Linked DNA regions of Homo sapiens: region 1 is reported to be linked to region 2. Evidence: microRNA targets listed by miRTarBase, many of them from high-throughput screens and not tested one by one. Region 2 holds a microRNA gene; the other region holds the end of a gene's coding sequence.
The links. The annotated mature microRNA hsa-miR-628-5p reads AUGCUGACAUAUUUACUAGAGG and lies in region 2 at 1,977-1,998, shown strand. An mRNA with a match to its seed (bases 2 to 7 or 8) in the 3' UTR can be bound and repressed. Matches are read on the target gene's strand: a 7mer-m8 pairs with bases 2 to 8, a 7mer-A1 pairs with bases 2 to 7 and ends in A, and an 8mer does both.

Region 1 (3,536 bases), not on the chromosome of region 2:
ACAATAAGTTGAATGTAAATGAATGCAGACATGCGGGATTCTATTTAGCAGCATAAATTGCTGAAATGAAATTCAGAAAAGAACACACAAGGCAGACAAAGACAAAAGTATTAGAGACAAGAAAAATACGAAAACATGAGTAAACAGGCATTTTAAGATCCCCTCCGCAGAGTCAATTTCTTAGCATATTTGAAACCATTAACTATACTTTTCTTTTTCATTATTTTAAGGCAAATTTGATAAAATAGTCAGTGGTGAGGAAGTATATAGTGTGTTTGTGGATTTAATATATTCATACTCTTTCTCTAAATGTTCTAGACAACTAAAAAGCTAAGAAAAAAACACATTTTAGATATTCTTTATCTTTAAAAATACATATAAATATGTGTACTCTATGTTGTTTTTTATTGTGTGAAATTTTATTTTACTAATAATATTTTTAATATATTTTAACTAATTATCATAAATCAAGAGTATTGTATCCAAAGCAGCCAGAATATTAGATGTGGTCATAAAATAAGTTTCCAAATTTTGTCTGAATAACTAGGATTAGAAAGAAGTAACTAAAAAATGGTTTGGACATTCAAATTTGGATAGAAATAAAATTTATTTTCATAAGTCAATCCTAACACTTGAGCTTCATGTAAATTTTCCAAAGTCATTCATATTTTGATCATTACTGTCGGACCCACAAATATTTGGAAATTTTTTTTAAATTAAAAATGTTCCCACTTAATTGCTTTGAGCTCGCTATGAGTTCCTGGAATATTTTGTCCAAGCAAATCTATAATTACAAACACTGTTGTTACGCTATTCAATTAGAAGTCTGATCATGCCACACTGTTCTTCTGAATTACTTTTTAAATGAGTGATTTGTTCTGGTTCACTTTTATTAAAATTATTCCTTAGCTGTTCCTTATAGTGAAACACCTACAAATATTCATCAGTATAATATCAAAAGGGAGTACTCAATCTCATATATCAGTTTGACTACTTTGAGATAGGTAAGCAATGCAAATAAAATAAAAATAACAGAGAGAGAATGCTCTCAACATAGAGCCACAGATCTTGCATTAAGTTGCCCTCTAATCACAGGGTTTTCTCACAGACTTTTCTTTCAAGATATGTAGAATGCATGAGAAACGAGCAATGTCTGTTATTTTCTGAAAAGCTGCCTTCCATGTGAGGAAGTGACTAATTTTTCATTTCACACTATAAAGGGCGTGAAAAGGCAAAACAGAAGAAGGCTAAGGGTTCTGTGTTACAAGAAGGAAAGGTGAGTTCTGCTTAAACAGACAGGAAACACACCATGCATATTCAGAGGGAAAGTCAAATTGAAAACATTTGAAAGTACTAACAAAATATGAAAGATGTTTATGTTAATATTGTGAGTTTGGTTCTTTTTACATGTAGCAGGCTTATTTATTGTTAAATTACAAAAACAATACTACAATTACAACAGATTAACTCAGCAATGAGAAAAGGTTGAGTGAAGATGTCAAAGAGTTAATTTAACCCTTTCCGTTGTTAAAATTTTACACTCGTTCTGTTATTCAACAAATATATATCCCCACTCCCCAGAAATGTCATTTTCTTAATTCTCTGTGTGTTATATATTGTTTTCTCCTATTCACTCAAATATAATCACAAAATCCAATATACAGGAGAGAATAAAGGCAGTAAAAAGAAATAATATACAGAGTATGATAAATATTTTTTAAAAGAGAGAAAATATATACTGAAATATCATTGGTTATAAATAAAATGTCTACTCTTCCTATGATTCTTCAGAAGAATTTATGTTTCCTCAGATTTTGCTAGCAGTTTGTTATAATCTAGATTTTTTTTAACAGATGAATTACAAATTGGCAGCTACTTATACCCTAGTGAAAAGAGCTCCATTACATTACTCTCACTTTATTTGTGATTGTTCTTCCTTTTCATGGGGATATGAGTTTTCCCCAAAGCCAGAATTTATGGCTGTCTTTCCTTCTGTCTTCTAACAAATCCCATCTGCATGCCTTCCCATCAGGATGCATTATACATCATTATGTTTTCCTTGTTTTATTAAAATATTTTCCCATATCTTATTAAAGTATTTATTAAGCATTCTGTCCCTGTAGAGCTTAGTATATACTCTAAAAAACACATAACTAAGCACCAACTTCTCTCTGTGAACCTGTTACTCCTGACTAGTCAATAGAAATCCTGGGGGAAACATTAGTGCCCTTCAGTAAATCAATGTTGTAGTACACTAAATTTAACCCCAGTGGCCAGAAAGAAATAATGCACCTCTCCAAATTCCTATACCATTCTCCAGGAGTGAATGGCTCACTGAGAAAGTTCCTGTTGATAATGGGAGTTGTCTTAATTTGTGTCTGACCTCTTATTCCCTACCACAAGGTAGCTGGTTCTCAATAGGAATGATATATCTGTTCATAAGAACATAGCACAACTGCATGGTAAATTCCATGCTTAATGGACATTCGAGGGAATAAAGCACCTTATACACTATCAAATTCGGGGCTTGCTTAGCTCAACTATTTACATGACAATAAATTCCAAAACTCAAAACATAAAACATTTACAACTGTAAACCCCCTATTTTTAGGATAATTCTTATACTTTGCTTGTGCAAGATTTGTTCTTGGAAAACTGGTTCAAATGAATTTTTTGCCCTTTCTTATATTCATCACATATTGTCTTATTCAGATTATTGTCTTGTGCCTTAGCAAAACTCCATGGGAAGCATTTATGAATTACTATAAGGGATATACAAAACAGAAGGCAATGTTTTTATAGGTAAGGAATTCTTTTCTTTAAATTAAGTAGAAAACTACGTGGCTACAGCTCTAGGGAGCTCATCCAGGTCTCTGTGATGTCTTCGATTTCGTTTCTTCTTCATTTCCTGCATGTGCTTCCACTTTGGGCCCCCCTTGTTTCTCTGTCTCCGCTTCTCCCTGTGCCACATCTGTTCGCAGTACTGGTCGAGGCTGAAGTTTGGGCTGCTAAGGATTTGGATGTAGTCTTTGTATCTCAACCGTGACTCAGCCAATAGATCCTTGACCTTCCCCTCCTCATGCTCTGCCCTCTGGGTATTTTCCATCTGTTCATTCTCAATGACATTCAAAGTCAGCTTCACTATGGTGTGGATGAAAGTGTGCTCCTGGGCTTTGCAGTAATACATCCCAGAATCCTTCTTCTGCAAACTTCGAATCAGTAGCCCATATTCCGTTTTGATGATTCTTTCATCGGGCTTCAACTGCAGAATTGGAAAAATGTAGGTAATAAATTAAACACAGAGAGAGCTAAGAGCAAATGAAAACAGGCTACATAGTTTTACTTAGATGAATATGAAAGACATATTCATTGTCTCTCTGTCTCTGTCATCAAGCATAATATTGTCAGCCATAGTTAAAAAGAGTAAAAAAATTCAACAAAAGTAATAGCCCCCAAACTATATCCTTAATTTTTCACATTTGAATCTTAGTAAGTCTAACTGAACCTTTGGAATGCAGTTATTTTTTTTCTCTCAA
Region 2 (3,000 bases):
AGTTGCCAAAAGTTTTTGTTTTGGGGCCGGGCACTTTGGCTCATGCCTGTAATCCCTGCACTTTGGGAGACTGAGGCAGGCAGATTACCTGAGGTAAGGAGTTTGAGACCAGCCTGACCAACACGGCAAAAACCCTTCTCTACTGAAAATACAAAATTTAGCCAGGTGCCTGTAATCCCAGCTACTTGGGATTAGCTGCCTGTGGTAGCGCAGGCCTGTAATCCCAGCTACTCTGGAGGCTGAGGCAGGAGAATCTCTTGAACCCAGGAGGCGGAGGTTGCAGTGAGCCAAGATTGCGCCACTGCACTCCAGCCTGGGCAATAGAGGGAGACCCCGTCTCAAAAAAATAAAAAAGATGGTTTTTGTTTTTCCCTTTTAGTTTGTTAATTTTGTGCTAGCCATTGCTTAATTTTGTTTTTTCCTTTCCCTTTCTTCATCCTTAAGGATTTCAACTTCAATTTTTTCTTCTCCTGACTTATATTCTTGTGGCAGTGTACGTTTTGTTGGGTTAAGAACACTGCCTGCTTCCTCTTTATGAACTCTCTTCCCTGACAAAAAGCAAAGTTGGTAGTGTAGAGAAGTTTGTATTGTGTGTTTTTAAGAAGGCATGGTTATTACGTTTTAATTTTGTACGGATAACAATGTTAAGTGATAATTAAGTATTTTTAATTCTTTTTTTTCTTTTTAGTCTTTATAATATAGCTTTATGCCTCTTTTTTTCCTGTTTATTCACAAAAGAAAGGTGGTGGGAGAAGCTGTGGAAGATTCCTGAGTGCATATGGGGATGGGATGATCAGCTGAAACACCATGTTCCTAGCCAACTCGCTTTCCAAGGTGGTGTGACTAAATCTGACCAGCTTCTCTAGAGCTGAGTGTGCCTAGTCACATTTACTATTTACCGAGTGCTTTAAAGATACCTGTTGTCATCCGCAATACTCTAAACAGGTGTTCAGAATCTCTTGTAAAGGAGCTGGCCAAGCTTATTGCATGCCTTTGCATTGCTTGCATCTATGGGCCAAATTAAGCTTTTTTAAAAGAAGTTAAAAATCAAAATATTTCAGCTATTATATGTATGGGTTAAAAAAGTTGGAAGCATTAGATAAGGACATGAATATATTAATGTGGGTTAGGCTGTTTTGTTAGAATATATAATGAAGGTAATGTTAATGTAGAATTGAACAATTATTTAAATAAGTTTTACAAATGGTTTGTTTTTACATTTACCTATCTTAATTTTATGTCAGAAAGCCTGACTTAAATACTCTAACCATGATCATGAATGCCTTTGTATTATGTAATGCTTTGTTTAAGTCTTCCTTTCTTTCTCTTTGTCCAAGAAATATAATCTCACACCTGAGGCGACGGCATCTTTGAAAAACTAGTGATCAAGAATAACCAGATAAACATGATGGGCATAAGGGTCATGACCAAAAAGATCTCTCAGTGGCATCTGTATCACTAAATATTAGGAATATTCATTCATTTCAGTAGTGCCTTCTGTCTTTGTGTTTATTGTTGTAAGTGTGAAAGTGAACTGAATACTCCATGATCCATCTCTGAAAAATATTGCCTAACCTAAATCACCAGCTTTCCTGTGGCATGGATATCCTGTCTTCTGAAGAACTGTTTTTGCTTTTCTGGAGCATGAATGTTTGTTGTTTTAGAGCTCTTTGTATTCGAGTTCATATTTTATCCTTATTTTTAGTGCTTTTCCTCTAAGTAGCTTGTGGAAATTATTTCTGAGTAATTGAAGCTTCTGTGTCAACATAATAGTTTGTTGACATAAGAAACAGTGTTAAGAAATTATGCATTTGGAAAAAACTGAAGGTGATTTTTTCCAGGGAATTTGTTTCCTGGACTTGGGATTTCTTGTGCAAATTTTCCCCACTAGTTTGTTTTTCTCTACTATTATTTTCATAAAGGAGCAGCACCAGAATAGTCCTTAATATCGGAGATAGCTGTTGTGTCACTTCCTCATGCTGACATATTTACTAGAGGGTAAAATTAATAACCTTCTAGTAAGAGTGGCAGTCGAAGGGAAGGGCTCATCTGACTTCTGGAAACCTATGTTAAAATACAGTGCTTTGAACCTTGATCATGGGCTAATTAGGTTGGAAATGAAACTAGAGACCAGATACACCCAAGGAAACTTTTGGTAGTTATTTTACTTTATAAGTCACAGGAAATGCTTGTGTACTTTCCTGTGTTCCTTAAATAGTTGCACTTAAATTACCTCTTTGAAACTGAATGAAGAGACAGAGAGTATTTTTTTTCTTTCCAGAAATAATACTTGTTTATACCTGTAATAGCAATGAAATTTTGTTTCTTTTGAGACAGAGTTTTGCTCTGTCTCCCAGTCTGGAGTATAGTGGCAGGATCTCAGCTCACTGCAACCTCCACCTCCCAGGTTCAAGTGATTCTCCTGCCTCAGCCTCCCAAGTAGCTGGGACTATAGGTGCACTACCATGCCCGGCTAATTTTTGTATTTTTAGTAGAGAAGGGGTTTCGCCATGTTGGCCAGGCTGATCTCGAACTCCTGACCTCAGGTGATCTGCCCGCCTCGGCCTCCCAAAGTGCTGGGATTACAGGCGTGAGCCACTGCTCCTGGCCAGCAATGAAACTTGAGGCTATGCGAATGAAGGATTGTTCTAAGAGTGTAAACTATAAGGCGAGGAGGATTAAATAAAAAAACAGAGATAGGCTCTCAAAGCACCAAATAGTATGATTAACAGATTCTTGTGTATCACATTTGAAATGCTTTATGTTTTGGCTTTATGTTGATGAGTTGAAAACCCGTGTTTTTGTTTATGTTGTTTGGTTTTTGTTTTTGGCTATCTTATGTAGAAAGGCATGTAAGGGATGGCATTGATTATTCTAAATAATTTTTACTGGGAAAGCTTTTCCAAGATTTTGAATAGCTAAATGTCAACTTTTTTCTTAATAGTATTTTCATCTCAGCCTAGTGACGATGAATCAAGTAGTGATGAAACCAGTAATCAG

Region 1: the mRNA of SEMA3D is a reported target of hsa-miR-628-5p. Seed matches in the 3' UTR shown: 7mer-A1 at 58-64.

The regions. Positions count from the first base shown.
Region 1 is chr7:84,996,604-85,000,139 of GRCh38, forward strand. SEMA3D (semaphorin 3D) reads right to left here. Exons shown (of 19, transcript NM_001384900.1): 19 at 1-3,262. The coding sequence ends at 2,837. Among named protein-coding and RNA genes, the nearest start is that of SEMA3D, 190 kb to the right of the region's middle. RefSeq lists an enhancer at 2,844-3,536.
Region 2 is chr15:55,371,989-55,374,988 of GRCh38, reverse strand. It overlaps MIR628 (microRNA 628), which reads left to right and starts at 1,955; the gene lies at 1,955-2,049. It overlaps CCPG1 (cell cycle progression 1), which reads left to right. Exons shown (of 9, transcript NM_001204450.2): 6 at 2,945-3,000. It overlaps DNAAF4-CCPG1 (DNAAF4-CCPG1 readthrough (NMD candidate)), which reads left to right. Exons shown (of 16, transcript NR_037923.1): 13 at 2,945-3,000.